Linked DNA regions of Homo sapiens: region 1 is linked to region 2. The links come from fine-mapping of genetic effects on gene expression. A gene starts in region 2. The other region holds a variant in brackets. All regions are shown on one strand. Distances are from middle to middle.

Region 1 (8,343 bases), 23 kb after region 2:
ATGGTCTCGATCTCTTGACTTCATGATCTGCCTCGGCCTCCCAAAGTGCTGGGATTGCAGGCATGAGCCACCATGCCCGCCAATGGGATCATTCTTTTAAAAATATTTTTCTTTTTCCCATTGGATTACCTTGTTCCCTGAGTTGAAAATCAATTGACCAAATATTTGTGGGTCTATTTCCGGACTGCCTAGCCTGTTTCCACTGATCTAATTTGTATATCCTATGCCAATGTCACACAGTTTTGAATACCGTTGCCTTATACTATGTCTTGAAATAAGATGATGTAAATTCTCCATCTTTGTTCTTTTTGAAGATTGTTTTAGCTATTCTAATCTTCTCCATTTTCAAAAATATAAATTTTAGAATCAGCATATTTCTCTGAAGACCCTATGAGGATTTTGATGATCAGTTTGTTGGTTCTGCAGATTAATTTGGGGAGAATTGACATCTTAAGAATATTGAGTCTTCCAGCTTGTGAATATGGTGATTTATTTAGGTTTTCTTCAAGTATGTATTTTCGATCATCTGTATACGTATTTTCACTCCTTCCAGGATTACAAAAATAACTTATTCAGCCAATGGAAGCAATTGCTACCAGCTGAGTTAAGCATTCAGCTATGGGTTAGATATTTGAGAGAACATGGGAACCTGGTTATATCTTCTGTGTGTGACCCATCCCTCAGTTTATTGGACTGAATTCATTTGTATAGTAATAAGACTATTTATTTATTTATTTTTTTGAGGCAGGGTCTCACTCTGACTCCCAGGGTGGAGTACAGTGGCACAATCACAGCTTACTGCAGCCTGGATTTCCCGGGCTCAGGTGATTTTCCCACCTCAGCCTCCTGAATAGCTGAGACTACAGGCATGTACCACCACACCTGGCTAATTTTTAAATTTTTTGTAGAGATAGAGTTTCACCATGTTGCCCAGGCTGGTCTCGAACCCCTGGGCTCAAGTGATCCACCCACCTCGGCTTCCCAAAGTGCTGGGATTACAGGCATGAGCCACTGTGCCCAGCCTGATAAGACTCATTTTAATGTAATTCACAGGTTTTTGCTCTTTGATGAGAGTCGGTAAGTACCTTCACTTACTACCTGGATTACAGTGCTTTATCATCTGTGTGGATTCAACACCCCGTATATATTTTACTTTCTTGTCTGTTTCTTTAGCCACTGGGCTATAGTCTTTAATTGATCAGTGTCTCTGATGCTGAGTGTCCCAGGCTGATCTTGAACTGCTGGGCTCAAGAAATCCACCCGCCTTGGCCTCCCAAAGTGCTAGGATTACAGGCATGAGCCACTGCACCCAGCCTATGAATGTATTCTTCATAGGTTTACTTTAAGTGCCAGATTACCTTCAGTTATACACATCATCATGTTCTTATTACAGGCACATGGAGTAATGGCGGGATAGATAGCCTTTTGCCATATTAGGTTTATCCATGTACATATTTTTTTATAGCACTTATATTGTGTTTTGTTCATATGCTTATTTCTGACTAGACTGGGGTCTTGGAGGCCAAGGACAGCCTGTTATTTATCTTTGCTGCAGAATGTCTGGCATATTGAGGACATGCAGGAAAAGTTTGAATTAATGAATTATAGCTCAAAATACACAAGGCTTCTAACAAATAATTCTTGTTAGACTTGACTCTTGCAGTTCTTACAGGTTTTCCCAACACGGTCATAATTCTTGTACCTCTTGGCAACATGATGTAGCAGAAGTGGGCTTCCTGGAATAGGCCTCAGTTTGAATCCTAACTTTGCTAACCTACCAACTGTTCTTTTTTACTCAATTAATTTTAAAAATTGAGTCAAAATTTGCATACCATAAAACTCACCCTTTTAAGGTATACAATTCAATGATTTTTAGTATTTTCACAACAAGGCGTATAACCATCACCACTATCTAATTCTAGGACACTTTCATTATCCCACAAAGGAAACTTCATACCCATATTCATGCCCCTTAGCAGTCACTCCTCAATTCCTTCTTCCTCCATTCCCAGGCAACTAGGCATATACAAATCTTATCATTTTTGTTTAAGGGAAACAGATTAAATTGATCTGGCCTTATAACTGACTTCTTATCCTTCAGAAATCTAATATGCTAAAAGGAGGCATTAATTGGTTTTTCTCCTTGTAGGAAACAACACCAAATAGGGATACCATGGGACAAACAGTGAATGAAGGTAAGATTTACTTGTTAAAGGCAATAATGTTTTTAGTTACTCATTTGGAATGAATATCTTCTGGTATACTGAACTTTTGAAATAAAGCCTTTAAAAAATAAATTTATAGGAGATGCTAGGTGCTTAGAATTTGAATTTTAGAACTGAATAGCTATTAAAGGTCATTGTCTTTCCTTGCTAGTTATATAAATGAGAAAACTGAAACTTAGAGAGGTTAAGGTCATACAACAGTTTGTGACAAAGCCAAGATTAGAATCCAAAGAGTGATTAAAAAATGTTTCATCCTGTTTTGCTCTATGAGAAGTCTGCTCACTATTCCATGAATATGCCACACTCATTTGCAGTCAGCTTTGTGTTGTATCTTCCTTCCCATAATACATTCTTTACATATTGGCCTTCCTACATCCTGTTTCTCCTTCAAGCGCTGTATCTCTCATGACTTTTCCTCTGGCTGAATGCTGAGTACTAAATGCTGTTCTCTAATTTTAAGTGTATCAGTTTAGTGTAGTCTCTTGACTAGATTCTTAGCTTCTCTAGAAGCTAAGCATGCCTTTACAGTTTTACTTTGTTTTCTTTTAGAAAAATCCTTCTGTAGAACTATTTAGTAAATACAAATTTGTACGTTCTTTGTACAGATTCAAGTTTGGCTTTTTGGTGAGAGAGGAGAGGATAAGATGACTTCATAAGTGGTGTTGTGTATTTCTCACAGGAGACTCCTAATATCTAGTTATCTCTCTCTGTCTTTTTTTAAATTTTTATTTTTATTTTTTTTTGAGACAGGGTTTTGCTCTGTTGTCCAGGCTGGAGGGCAGTGGCACGATCATGGCTCATTGCAATCTCTGCCTCCTGGGCTTAAGTGATCCTCTTGCCTTAGCCTCCTGAGAGGCTGGGGCCACAGACGTGAGCTACCACACCTGGCTAATTTTTTGTATTTTTAGTAGAGACAGGGTTTTGCCATGTTGGCCAGGCTGCTTTCGAACTCCTGACCTCAAGTGATCTTCCCGCCTCGGCCTCTCAAAGTGCTGGGATTACAGGCATGAACCAACGTGCCTGGCCTTTTTTTAAAAAATATTTTTTTACAGAGATGAAATTACTCAGACTAGAGTGCAGTGGCGTAATCATAGCTTACTGTAACCCCAAACTCCTGGGCTCAAGTGATCCTCCTGCCTTGGCCTCCCAAGCAGGTGAGGCTGCAGATGTGTGCCACCACACCTGGCTAATTTTTTAAAAAAATTTTTGTGGAGACTGGGTCTTGCTGTGTTGCTCAGGTTGGCCTCAAACTCCTGGCCTCAAGTGATCCTCCCTCCTTGGCCTCCCAAAGTGGTGGGATTACAGGTGTGAGCTGTCACATCCAACCTAGTTATCTCTTTTTGTGATGTGAAAAATCACAAAAAGTCATGGATGGCTATTCCCTGGATCCATTCATTTATTAGTAGTTGTAAAATGAAGGTATTCTATCATTCTTTATTGGCCAAAAAATTTCTATATAGAGAAACTACCTTTCTTCAACCACTCAGTTGAAATCATTTAAACAGAAAGCAGCTCATATATCCCTCTCAAGTGTTCACACATCTTGAAGAGTCACTCAGTCATAACTAGTAAGTAGATCTGTTACGTTGAATGGCATCATTCTTAGATCCTTCTTTAAGAAGTTTGTCACTTGACAATTAGAACATCGGTAAGGGTAAAATAGCAACACAAGTATGTTTAAATCCATGAGTTCATAATGATAATAAAAAGCAAAACAAATAAAACTTACTGGTCATCTGTGGAGAATGCTAGAGATCCAGCTCATCACTTTGAAAACTAGAAATACAGGAAAATAATAAAGTGCTGATTGTGATTTCTCTATGTGATCCGTGCCTTAAGGTAACTGAATGGTTGAAGCATGGAAGCTTCTCTCTATAGAAGTTTTCTGGCTAATAAAGAATGATAGAATTAGAATACCTTCATTTTGCAACCATTAATAAACGAAAGGATCTAGGCAATAGCCATCCACGACTGTTCACATCACGAAAAGAGAGATAACTAGATATTAGGAGCCTCCTGTGAGAAATACACAACACCACCTATGAAGTCATCTTATCCTCTCCTCTCCCACCAAAAAGCCAATCTTAAATCTGACCAAACTCTTCTGGATTGAAATATGAATGCCAATTTAAAGAAAATACAAGAAACAGAGGAACCGAACTCTGTGGGGAGGTAGTCAGCAAAATCCAGACTGGAAAACTTGAAAGGACCAACCAACTGGTATTGTCAGCAAAAAAATTGTAAAGGGGAAGAATAAAAACGAGAAGAAAGGAGGAAGACACCTGTAGATCAAAAGAGATGTAAGAGACATATCAACCATTGCTATGTGTGTGGACTTATTTGGGTTCTGAATCAAGCATACACACTAAAAATAGTTAAGACAATTGGGGAACACTGGTTATTTGATGATTTTAAGGAATTATGGTTAATTTTTTTAGATGTAATAGAAATATTATGCTTAAGTTTTTAAAAATGAGTCCTTTTAGAGATACATACTATAATACATGTGGATGAAATGATACATCTTAGATTTGGTGAGGTTACCAGGTCCAGTGTTATTTGAGCTCTTTAGCTTAGCACCAAGAAAATCTCTGCCCAGTCCATTGAATTACAGTGTATTGTAGCTTCTCTGTTATGTTTTGAACTCTCAAAAGCATC[T/C]GTTTTATTTCTAGGACATGTTAATTTAAACATTGTAAAGATCAGCTCATTTTGATTTATTGATGCACTGATTTTTTTTTTTTTTTTTTTTTTTTTTTTTTTGAGACGGAGTCTCGCTCTGTCACCCAGGCTGGAGTGCAATGGCACGATCTCAGCTCACTGCAACCTCTGCCTCCCGGGTTCAAGTGATTCTCTTGTCTCAGCTGCCCGAGTAGCTGGGATTACAGGTGCCCGCCACCATGCCTGGCTAATTTTTTCTATTTTTAGGAGAGACAGGGTTTCGCATGTTGGCCTGGCTGGTCTCAAACTCGTGACCTCATGTGATCTGCCTGCCTTGGCCTCCTCAAGTGCTGGAATTACAGGCGTGAGCCACCACGCCTGGCCTGATGCATTGATTTAACAAATGCTTGAGAGTGTTGCGATGCCAGGTCCTGTTTTAGGCGCTTGAGGATACCACAGTGAATGAGATAGACAATAAAATAAATAAATCTCTGCCCTTTTGGAGATTTCATTTGAGTAGAGTGAGACAATAAATGAGCAGATTATAAAATGCATAGTACATTAGAAAATGGTAAGTCCTACATAGAAAATGAAGATATTATAAAACTAAAATTGGCTCTTTAAAGTTTTTTAATTTATATTTTTCTGAGTGCTCTTTCAAGCTGTTGCTGTGGACTCCCAGTATTGCTATTTTCTTTTTTATTAGATTCCATGGATGTCAAGAAGGAGAATCAAGAGAAAACTCCTCAGTCAAGTACATCTTCTGTACAAAGGGGTAGGTTTTAAAGTAATTTAATACAGCATAGTTTTCTTCCTCACTAGTGTTAAAATTAACTTTAAGTGCAAATTTTCTTATTGTTTTGATTTCTTATTGTACAGTCTGTATACTGTAAACTTCTGTAAATACAAAATGTAATAAGAAAGGTCAAAAATTGTATTTTATTTTGAAAATTTTACTTAGAGATAAGTTGACACGGATTAAGTAAAAGGGTAACTTTGTATATTTCAGTGCAAATTTTCCTAAATTATAGGTATCTAGTTATTAATTGCCATGTATTACCAATTTAAAATAATTTGGTTATTAGCAAAAACCCTTCTAACGTTACAGTCAATGTGAAAGCTTTTTTTTCATGGTCAGAAGACAGTTCAGTGGTTAAGAGCTTATAGGCATTGTGGTGAGTCCGACAGATGTGTTCTGGAATTCTGTCCTCACTCCTTACTGGCCATGGTGACCTTGGGCACATTACTCAACAGCTCTTAGACGTTTTTTCTTCTTCTTTCTTTGAGACAGAGTCTCGCTGTGTCACCCAGGCTGGAGTGCAGTGGTGTGATCTTGGCTCACTGCAACCTCCACCTTCCGGGTTCAAGCGATTTTTGTGCCTCAGCCTCCCGAGTAGCTGGGACTACAGGCATGCACCACCACGCCTGGCTAGTTTTTGTATTTTTAGTAGACATGGGGTTTCACTGTGCTGGCTAGGCTGGTCTCAAACCTCTGACCTCAGGTGATCCACTTGCCTCAACCTCCCAAAATGCTGGGATTACAGGCGTGAGCCACTGTGCCCGGCTCTTTTTTCTTCTTTATAACACAGGGATAATGATAGTACTTATCTCATGGCACTACTGGAAATAAATAGAGGAAATGAATTTAAAGCACCTAATATAATGCCTAGGCATATAGTAAGTGTTCAGTAAATGTTAACTTTATTAATTCATGTTCCTTATTATGAACAGTACATGTATAATATTGCATCAGAGACACTCAGGAGATGTAATAGAATCTGATGCATTGGCTTGCTCTTAAATGAGAAAATAAGTCATATGTACACAAAAGGCATTAAAAAATAACGTAGCAAACTATTGTTTTACCAGACATTTCCAGAGATTTCTTGCCCCTTGTGTTTCTGTTGTATCTGCCCTGCCAGCCCCAGTGCAGAGCAGTTCACCCTATGACCTTCTGTTCCTACTTGAAGATTGCCTATAGAGGTAATCCCCACGGAATTGTTGTTCTCTCACTGTAGCTGGGCCCTCAGTGCTCCCTTAACTTTCTTTACCATGGCCTTATTTGTTCTTCAACTCTTCCCTGGGACCCCCAAATCCTCTGAGGAAATGGAGGCCATTGAATTAGACTGTTCCTTATCCCTACAAACTCCTCTCCATCTGTTTTTAAAAATATAACAGCTTTACTGAGTTATAATTCAAATATCATATAATTCACCTATTTAGAGTGCACAATTCAATGGTTTTCAGTATGTTCACAGAGTTGTGCAACCACCACCACAGTCAATTTTAGAACATTTTTATCCCCCTAAAAAGAAATCCTGTACCCATTAACAGTACTCCCCATTTCTCCCTAGTGCCTCCTGTCTCCCCCAGCTCTAGGCAAACACAGGTCTACTTTCTGCCTCTATAGATTTTCCCATTCTAGACATTTAATTAAAAAAATAGATTACTTAAGTTGATAGCCATCTGCAGATACTTCTCAGGCCTGGGCCCTAACATCCTATTTTAGAAATCAGTGAGTGACTACCAGAAGGTAAGCTCCAAGAGAGCCAGGGTTTTAATCTGTTTTATTAACTCATGCATCTGCAGTACCTAGGACAGTGCCTGGCACATGCTGATGACCTGCTATGGGAATCCAGTTACGAACAATATAGACATGATTCCTGCCCTCTTTTATTGACTGACTGATTGAGACAAGGTTTTACTCTGTCATGCAGGCCAGAGTGCAGTGGCATGATCATGGCTCATTGCAGCTTTGACCTTCTGGTCTCAAGTGATCCTCTCACTTCAGCCTCCCGAGTATGTGGGACCACAGGCGTGCACTACCATGCCTGGCAATTTTTAACAATTTTTTGTAGAGACGGGGTCTCTCTGTGTTTCCCAGGCTGGTATTGAACTCCTGGGCTCAAGCGATCTGCCCGCCTCAGCCTCCCAAAGTGCTGGTATTACAGGTGTGAGCCACTGCACCCAGCCTCTTACCCTCTTTGAGCTTAGTGGGCAAGATAGAAATTAACAGATGCCTAATTGTAGTTGTGATAAATGCTGTGAATTAGTGGATGCTGATCATTCAGCTGAGAAACTTCTATCTCTAGGTATTTTGCCCATCTTCACATAGCAAGGGATCCCAAGGATAGCACTGGTGGAAGACATGATTCTGATTTACTCTAGAGAAGACCAGGGGAGCTCATATGGGTTATATTCAGTACAAAAAGATGTTGGAGCTAATGTGTAGACTAGAATAGAGTACAAATAAAAAAAGAAGAGACCATGGGCACATGTGAATAACAATCAGATCACAAGGAGATATATATATAAAATCATATCAGTTCCCAGGCCTCTCTTCTGAGATAGAATACTGCCCCCATCCCCAGTCTGTCAATGAAGACATGATGCAGAGGCAGACTGGGACCTCAGGCTTAACTAAGACTTTCTGACTATTTTGGCTTCTGGTTGGGAATTC
Region 2 (8,343 bases):
ATCCACTTGCCTCGGTCTCCCAAAGTGCTAGGATTACAGGCATGAAAATCAAAATGATAAATGTTTTAGTGAAATGTCCAAAAGGCCAGTTGTCAGCTGGTCAACTCTAATTCCATTCATCTAGTTATACAAAAAATATAATATAGGTACATCTAAAAAGGTTCGATATGGGGAAGGGTGTGGTAATAGATCCTAGTTCCTCTGAAGATCTTAAAACATACGTCTATCTATCTCTGTCTCTCCTCTTTGGATGGGGTGTAAACTCCTGGAGTATTCAAACTGTCTTATTCATCCTGGTATTCTCACTTCTGGCAGAGTGGCACATAAGCATTCAATACATCACTGAATGAAGGACTGGCTGAATGTAATAATGGTCAAATGTAGCGTAGTGTTCACTGAGGTTATGTTAGTTTTCACAGCATATAAAACACTTGACTTGGCCAAAGTCAGCTTAGGTGTCATGCACTTTGTTGGTAAAAGGCTAATGTAATTTTACTTTTTTAAATGTGGGGATTTGTTAAGCAAAGACCATGTGGTTTTCTGATAGATTTGACTAGTATTTTCCCCATCTGTGAAGTAAATGTAGCAGATTTTATTATCCCCATTAAAAAAATTAAAACAATCTGAGGCATGGAAAGGTTCTAAAGAAATACAGTTAGTTAGTTGAGATAGACTAATGATAGACTTGAGATTCCAGACGAGAGACAGGGCCGGTCCTCCTTTTGCTAGAATACGATGCCTTCCTGTTAGACTAGCTTCTCTGTCTTCCTATTGCACTTCACTTCTTGATCTTTTTCCAGGGAAGTTACTATTTTGAAGTTAAAAGAAGAGGTTTATTGTAAGCAACCATAACAATACTGAAAACAATTTATATCTTACAGATATGTGCTCTTGGTTTAATGGGGAAAAAAGGGCAAATTGTTAGAAACAGGGATCTGAAGATATTTGTAAAGTCACTATTTTAAACAATCAGTTATTTAATACCCATTCTATGGATTTTTACACTAAGGTAAAAATATGAATAGTGGGTTTACTAGTTACAACTTGGAGCTCCAGTCTCTGCCAGGCTTAGTTAGGCTTCTGTGTTTTAGGGAGAAAGATGCCCATTTAGTAGGAAAACTAGAGGGAGTCTTCACTCATCCTAAAACGTTAACTTTATGTATGCAAATTACATTGTTTCTTTTTTTTTTTTTTCCGAGACGAAGTTTCGTTCTTGTTGCCCAGGCTGGAGTGCAGTGGCACGATCGCGGCTCACTGCAGCCTCCACCTCCCGGGTTCAAGCGATTCTCCTGCCTCAGACTCTCAAGTAGCTAGGATTACAGGCGCCCGCCACGCCACCTGGCTAATTTTTGTATTTTTAGTAGAGACTGGGTTTCGCCATGTTGGCCAGGCTGGTCTCAAACTCCTGACCTCAGGTGATCCACCTGCCTCGGCCTCCCAAAGTGGAGGGATTACAGGTGTGAGCCACCGCGCCTGGCCGATATTGTTTCAACATAAGCATGTGTACTGATGAAGATCTAGATTAAACTTGCTTATCTAGGGAAGATTATCTTTTCACTCTCACTAATATTGAACTCTAAAAAAGGTACAAAAGGAAGCAATAAAACACACTTGAAATACAGGAGTATTTTGCCCTGGACTTGGACTGGGTGGGGTGATGTGTTTTTTTGAAGGTTGTCACAGGTTTGGTGCCAAATCAGGAGAACTATAAGAGCAAATTCACAGGAGCAAATCTGAGGCTTGAAAAATAAATCATGAAAACTTGGATTTTACCAGCTTTAGTTCTTATTCTTTCAGTTCACAGTTTCTTTATTTTCATGTTTTCTAGGCAAAGTTAATCGAACATAATAACAGTAGGTATTCATTTATCCATTTATCTATTCACTCATTCAACAAATATTTACCAAATTCCTACTATGGGCAAGAGACTTACATATAATGTAAGAGAAACGGTGATGTTCCAACCTGTGTTAACATTATGAAAAAACTGTCTCAAATTTATTTTGGCAAAGGTGGAAAAGCAGGGTATAATAAAATAATTATTGAAAAGTTTATATACGTAGTGGATAAAAGCACAATTGATGACAAGGGTGGAAGGAATTATTAGGACATATTTGAATATATTAATATATTCAAAAGCTAACTGCCACTTATTTGCTGTGTATTAATTTATTTTCCTCATCTGTAAAATGGGAATGAGAGTACCTACCTCATAGGAAAGTTGTGAAAGAACATTGCAAATATTGGAAATTTATCTCTAAAGAGACTAGCGTGATTCTCAGCACATGCTCAATAAATGGTAGCTATTGTTATTATCGATAACTCAGATTTAATATAACGAAGAGTCACACATCTATAAATCCTTTGGTGAGGATAGTAACTGAGAAGATGTTCTAGGATAGATAATTCAAATTTCATTTTTAGAATAAGGGCTTCAGTAATTTCATGTTAACAGAAATATGAAAAATAGATTAGGCATCAGTGAGCCAGGCAATTCAGCAATCATAGTAGAATTCCTACAATTTAATAGAATCCATAGACGTAAAAAAGGTATGTGACAAGCCAAAGTAAATCTTTCTTTTTTTTTTGAGATGGAGTCCCAAATAAATCTTTCATACATAGAATGTAGAGATGAATTTCAAATATTTCCATTGCATTGGGATTAGAAGGACAGTGGCCACTAATTAAGAATTTATGTCCTCCTCAGCCCTGCTGGTGCCCATAATAAGGTTTGTTTAGATTAAACCTCTGTTTAATTTCTTTCTGTTAAAGATCTCCTTCTGGCTTTTTTTTTTTTTTTTTTTTTTTGAGACAGAATTTCGCTCTTGTTGCCCAGGCTGGAGTGCAATGGCGCGATCTCGGCTCACGGCAACCTCTGCTTCCCAGGTTCAAGCGATTCTCCTGCCTCAGCCTCCCGAATAGCTGGGATTACAGGCGCGTGCCACCACGCCCGGCTAATATTTTGTACTTTTAGTAGAGACAGGGTTTCTCCATGTTGGTCAGGCTGGTCTCCAACTCCCGACCTCAGGTGATCCACTCGCCTCGGCCTCCCAAAGTGCTGGGATTACAGGCGTGAGCCACCGCGTCCGGCCTCTTTCTGGCTTTTGAAAACATGTTTGGGCCGGGCGTAGTGGCTCACGCGTGTAATCCCAGCACTTTGGGAGGCAGAGGCGGGTGGATCATGAGGTCGGGAGATCGAGACCATCCTGGCTAACACGATGAAACCCCGTCTCTACTAAAAATACAAAAAATTAGCCGGGCCTAGTGGCACGCGACTGTAGTCCCAGCTACTCAGGAGGCTGAGGCAGGAGAATCGCTTGAACCCGGGAGGCGGAGGTTGCAGTGAGCCGAGATCGTGCCACTGCTCTCCAGCCTGGGCGACAAAACGAGACTCTTGTCTCAAAAAACATGCTTGAACCTTCATCTTAGGACACTCCAACATTTTCTCCTATGTGATATACATTATAGAATTGATAGGACCAAATCTCACTTTAATATTTGCATATCATCAACCTAGTCTTTCTATTTTCGCCTTAAAGTTTACTTGAATTTGGCATTAACATTTAGGTTTTCATTTTTAAAGCATTAAATAATAGATCCATTTGATTCTGTGCCACTTGCCAATGTTTAGATATAATAAACACTTTGACTTTTGCTTAATACTGCAGAAGCTGCAACTGGAAAATTCTATCCTGCGTTGTAGACAATGGATATATTCCACAGGAGTTTTTTGTTCTCAGTTTTAAGCTCTGATTTCCAAATCATGATTTAAAAAGTATATCATGCCCTCTGCACTAAGTTAGGTGATCACAGATGCAAAACCTACATCCAGCTTTGGAAAGAGTTCCAGAGAGAGAAGCCCTAGCAATGGTTTGTTTTTGGCTAACATAGCACATTGTATTATTTTTCAAACAAAAGTTTGAAATCAGCTTATACCTAACCTGAGAACGAGGGACAGATGTTTTTCTCCGGCGTTCTGTTTGCTGTAATTTGTGCTGAGAGATTCACTGGTCGTTTTAAAGCTGTTTTTACGCCCCCTCCTTTGTGCGACCTCCACTTGCGCTATGGGCCTTGCCCGGTGGGAAAGGGAGCGTGCAGAAGGGACCCCAAAACGCACTCTCGGGGATGCTCCTGAGTCAGTAAGCAAGTGATTTCCCCCTGCGGGTTCATCTAGTTCCCGTTAGCTCAACCCCGGGTTTAGAGGAAGAACGAAATCCAGAGAGTGAAGCTGGGAGGTGAATGCGTGGCAAAAACTCATGGAAAAAAAAAAAAAAAGCAGTTTCAAGGACTATGCTGCAACCCGCCAAGCAGTGGCTTTCCTCAAGCTGCTGTAACCAGCTGCTTCTCCCTGCTCCTCGAACTTGCTTGAGTTCCGAGGGAAGCGCCTGCTTTTTGGGTGCGTGGCCAGGGTGGGTGGTGGCCAGGATTCGAAGGCGACAGTGAAGGGGAGCGAGTTCCCGGGATGGAACTTGACGTGGAACCCGGGGTCCCATCGAGGGGCTCCCCACGGCCTCGGGTGCTTGGGCTGCGACTGGTTTTTCATTTGGCGTAGGCGTGGGGGGTAGGAGGCAAAGTGCCAAGGGCTTTCCCGGGCTCACAGTGTCTCATGGTCCGCCACTGCCTGCGGTGGCGCTCGGCTTGACCCCGGCTCGGGCCCCGCACGCGGCGGCGGTCAAAGGGCGTGCTCGCGGCAACCGCAGGGCACGCGGGCCGGCCGCGCGGGGGGCGGGGCGGCAGTGGCGGTTGCGGGGCATGCGCGGCTCCGCGCGCGGCTTCTCAAACATGGCGGCGGCGGTGTGAAGCTCGGTGCCGGCTCGCGCGATCGGTGGGACAGAATTTCGTTGTTTTCACCGACGAGACTGGAGGTACGTGGTGATTCCGGGCCCCGTAAGGAATGGAGAGGCGGAGGTGTGTCCCGGACCCCGACCGTTGTCCGTGGGCGGGCGGGTAGAAGCCATCAGCGCGCGTCCCGTGCGAGGAACGCCCCCTTACGATCCCGCCTATGTCCCATCTCAGTTCGGCTTCGCGATAGGGTATCCCGCCCCCGGCGCCTTCCGCGGACGCCCTTCAGCCGATCTCGCGTTTCCCCTCACGCCGCCCCGGGGCCTTTTCGCCGCCGCGGGGTTTGGGCGCCCGGCCGATAGCTTCCACCCGTCCCCTCGCCTGCAGCGCCGACAGCGCCCTCCGGCGCATCCTCCCTGCCGTGGGTAGGGCCGGGCTGGGGCCTGGGGGGCATCACGGTGGGTGGCGGGGCGGAGGAAGGAGGTAGACTTTGCCTGGTCTGGGCTGAGATAACTTTTGGAGTTTGGGAGGGAAACGTCGGCCCGGAAGGATGCGCCTGTGGCGGCGTGCGGGCGCAAATCCTGGTGCCAAGGTGCGCGCCGCCGGGCTCCTGGCGGGGGCTGGGGGCGCCGGTGGCTCACCCTAGCGGTGCAGCGGGACCGGAATGCGCGTCCCGTCCGGGGCTGGCGGGGAGGCGAGGAGGGGCTCTAAGCCTCCTGAGGGGCGGAGAGGCGGCCTCGCGGCCTGACCGAAAAAAAGTTGCTGCCGTCACTTAGAAACAGTCTCGAAATGGTTTCTTACCTTTCTCGCTTTTTCCACCTGTATCGTGCTTGCGCCCCATCCAGGTGTGAAGAGCCGGAGGGAGAATGGGTCTAGGCGAATTTGCTCGATTTTGCGCCTCAAGGTTGTACATAGATAGCTTCCTGGGCCGACTTGTAATTCGGCTCCCCCAAACCCCAAATGTTTGGGCAGCACAAGTATTTACTTACAGGCTCCCATTTGAGACTATTTATTTTTTAAAAAGAGGTTGTTAAACATTTGTCAAGCATCACAAAGTGTGATTGCAACTTGAAATTTGCTTCTTGTTTGTAAATTAGGAGATTAACGTTTATGACTTACTTTAGGTCTTCTCTGGAAAGTTAATGGATCGATTAGTGGGGGTAAACTGAGGCAGGGAAAGTGAATAAGTTGCTTATGATCATATGATTTACAAAAGTATTGGAGATAGTTGTTTTTTTCCCTAAAACAGCTTCAGATGCTGCTACATTTTAATGCCCCCAGAGCTATTCATATTTCTGTTTTGAGGGAAAAGTATTTTAAGATGTACAACATTTATGGAGTACAGCTGCCTATGATGAGCAATTGTTTTATAACAATGGTTCATAAACGCATATTTAATTCTTTTCAATAACAGCGAGGGAAATGTTTTTCAATAATGACGATTTTGCCTTTCTTTTATTTTTCTTAATTACTCATTAAATAAAATATTTCCAATTACGAATGTGCTTTCAGGCTGTTTGTGTGTTTTTTTTTTTTTTTTCTATTTAATGGGAGGAATGTGAAAATAAGCTTTTGGAAATGAATCCAGTGGGATTTTTGAGAAAAGATTGAGTTTATGAGTATTCACCTGATGCCTTGTGTTTAGCTTTATCTATAACCTTTAAAACAGTTTGATAGAATGTAAAGAAAAAACACCATTTAAACTGGCTTTGAAAGTTTTGAATGAACTTTATATATACATCATGCAGCCATATGAACTTCTTAAGGATGTATACTTGTTTACCCCAGAGAACCTGATTTGCTTTGGAATTGGTAGTTGGAAAAAAGATTACTGTAACTCTACTGCATTATATGTGCGGGTGCTTTAAAGTTGATAGTGTCATAACGTTCAAAAATCATTACAGTCAGTCTAAAAAAGGTGTATCAGTTTTTCTCATGAGGTGGTTGATCAGTCCTTTTGATTTATGATTCCATCAACACATCTTTATTAAGCACCTGTGCTGTCTTTACTATGGAGTTCAGTTTATTCAGAGCCCACTACGTGTGCTAATTTCAGGGTGTTTAAGGCTTTCCACCCATAGTTTATTCCTGAAAATTTCAGGGAGTTATAGCTAAAAAAATCAATACGAATGTAGAACAAGTATTCCTTTCATTCAAAGGGCGAACTCGAGAAGTCAGTATTTTTGTCATAATTCTCCAAACAAAATTCTGAGTGTAGCTGCAAACTATTTCTGACTTACGTGATGTTAACTTTGTGATTTTTTGGTTAGGATTATATAAAGCTATATATTTTCATGAGATTATTTTCTGGTTCAAATAGATAACATACTGGTTAAGCTTGAGGGGAAAAATGAGTTGCTGGTATAAATGGAAATCAATATGTGCTCTGAAGATTGGGTATTTTTTAATACTAAGCAATTTCTATTACTAAGTAGTTTAAGCTGTAATTAAGTTTTAACTGGTATTTTAAAGCACTTTGTTTTTTCAAAATGTTGCAGAAATCTCTGAGCTCAGAAATAACAAATAAGGGTTATGATCCTCAGCTATAAGCCAGATGTGACTCTTATTTTCTTTTGGGCTTGTTCCTTTTTAGCTGCCTGCCTGTTCCTCCCAGATGCTTCCTATCACCCCTCTTCCTGCCCCTGTTCCCTTTGCTGTTGGTGTCTGTTTCCGCATCAGTGAAATGGTCAGGGTAATCCTTTGCTGCTTCACTGAGAAATAATTAATGATGGTAAAGTGCCTTGAAAAGGCTGAGTAAATACCAAGTCTTTTGAATTAACTTGATGTAGCCACTTGTTCCATTTAAGGAAGAGCCAAATCCCAATTTTAGTTTGAGCTCTTGGGGGTGCGAGAGAAAAGTTTCACTTGACTATTTTACTGCCTTTCTTTTGGGGTTAATAGCAATGACTTTTGTAACTCTAGTAACTGGAACACGGGTGGATACAGCAGTATCCTCTGCTGTTTGCCTTATTAGTCACCTCTAGTCTTTTTTTTTTTTTTGCCTGGTTATTCTGTCTGCCATTTTTCTCCCTCTATTCTCATTCCACTTGTGAATGGAAATCGGAGGTCCTCTCTATTAGCTACCCTCTCGGGGTGGGGAGGGTAGGTCTCACTGTCTCCTCATAGTCATATTCCTGATTTTTAGGATATACAAGAACAAAGTGGGCTCTGCCAGCTATCAGCCTTAGAGCTATGAGCTGTGGTGCAAAGATTAGTCTGTCATTGCCAGAAGGTGTTTTGTAGTTTGCAGTGGGCAAATCAAGCATCCCTAATAATTTTAGAACCATTATTAATGTCTGAGAATTACTACATAATACCTTAGAATTTGAACTGATTGTTGATTCCAGGAACTAAAAACCTGGACATTTTGAAAATGGCAAATGTTGGTGATGTTTTTTTTTTTTTGAGATGGGCTCTCGCTGTGTTGCCCAGGCTGTAGTGCAGTGGCGTGATCTCAGCCCACTGCAGCTTCTGCTTCCTGCGTTCAAGCAATTTTCCCACCTCAGCCTCCTGAGTAGTTAGGATTACAGGGGTGTGCCACCATGCCCAGCTAATTTTTGC

Alleles and levels. Alleles are on the strand shown, and positions count from the first base shown. SD is a standard deviation of normalised expression in the study named.
For the expression in sigmoid colon of the gene that starts at base 4,769 in region 2, C is the low allele of the variant in region 1 and T is the other (moderate effect, 0.50 SD a copy in GTEx).

The links. PIP is the estimated chance that this variant, and not a neighbour inherited with it, causes the effect.
Region 1: its variant is fine-mapped to the expression of SCML2 in sigmoid colon (GTEx, PIP 0.94).

The regions. Positions count from the first base shown.
Region 1 is chrX:18,327,902-18,336,244 of GRCh38, reverse strand. It overlaps SCML2 (Scm polycomb group protein like 2), which reads left to right. Exons shown (of 15, transcript NM_006089.3): 2 at 2,150-2,195; 3 at 5,590-5,658. The coding sequence starts at 2,174. Among named protein-coding and RNA genes, the nearest start is that of SCML2, 23 kb to the left of the region's middle. The variant T/C (reference allele first, on the strand shown) is at 4,884.
Region 2 is chrX:18,351,114-18,359,456 of GRCh38, reverse strand. SCML2 (Scm polycomb group protein like 2) reads left to right here and starts at 4,769. Exons shown (of 15, transcript NM_006089.3): 1 at 4,769-4,865. LOC124905253 (a long non-coding RNA gene) reads right to left here and starts at 4,276. Exons shown (of 2, transcript XR_007068403.1): 1 at 3,942-4,276; 2 at 571-808.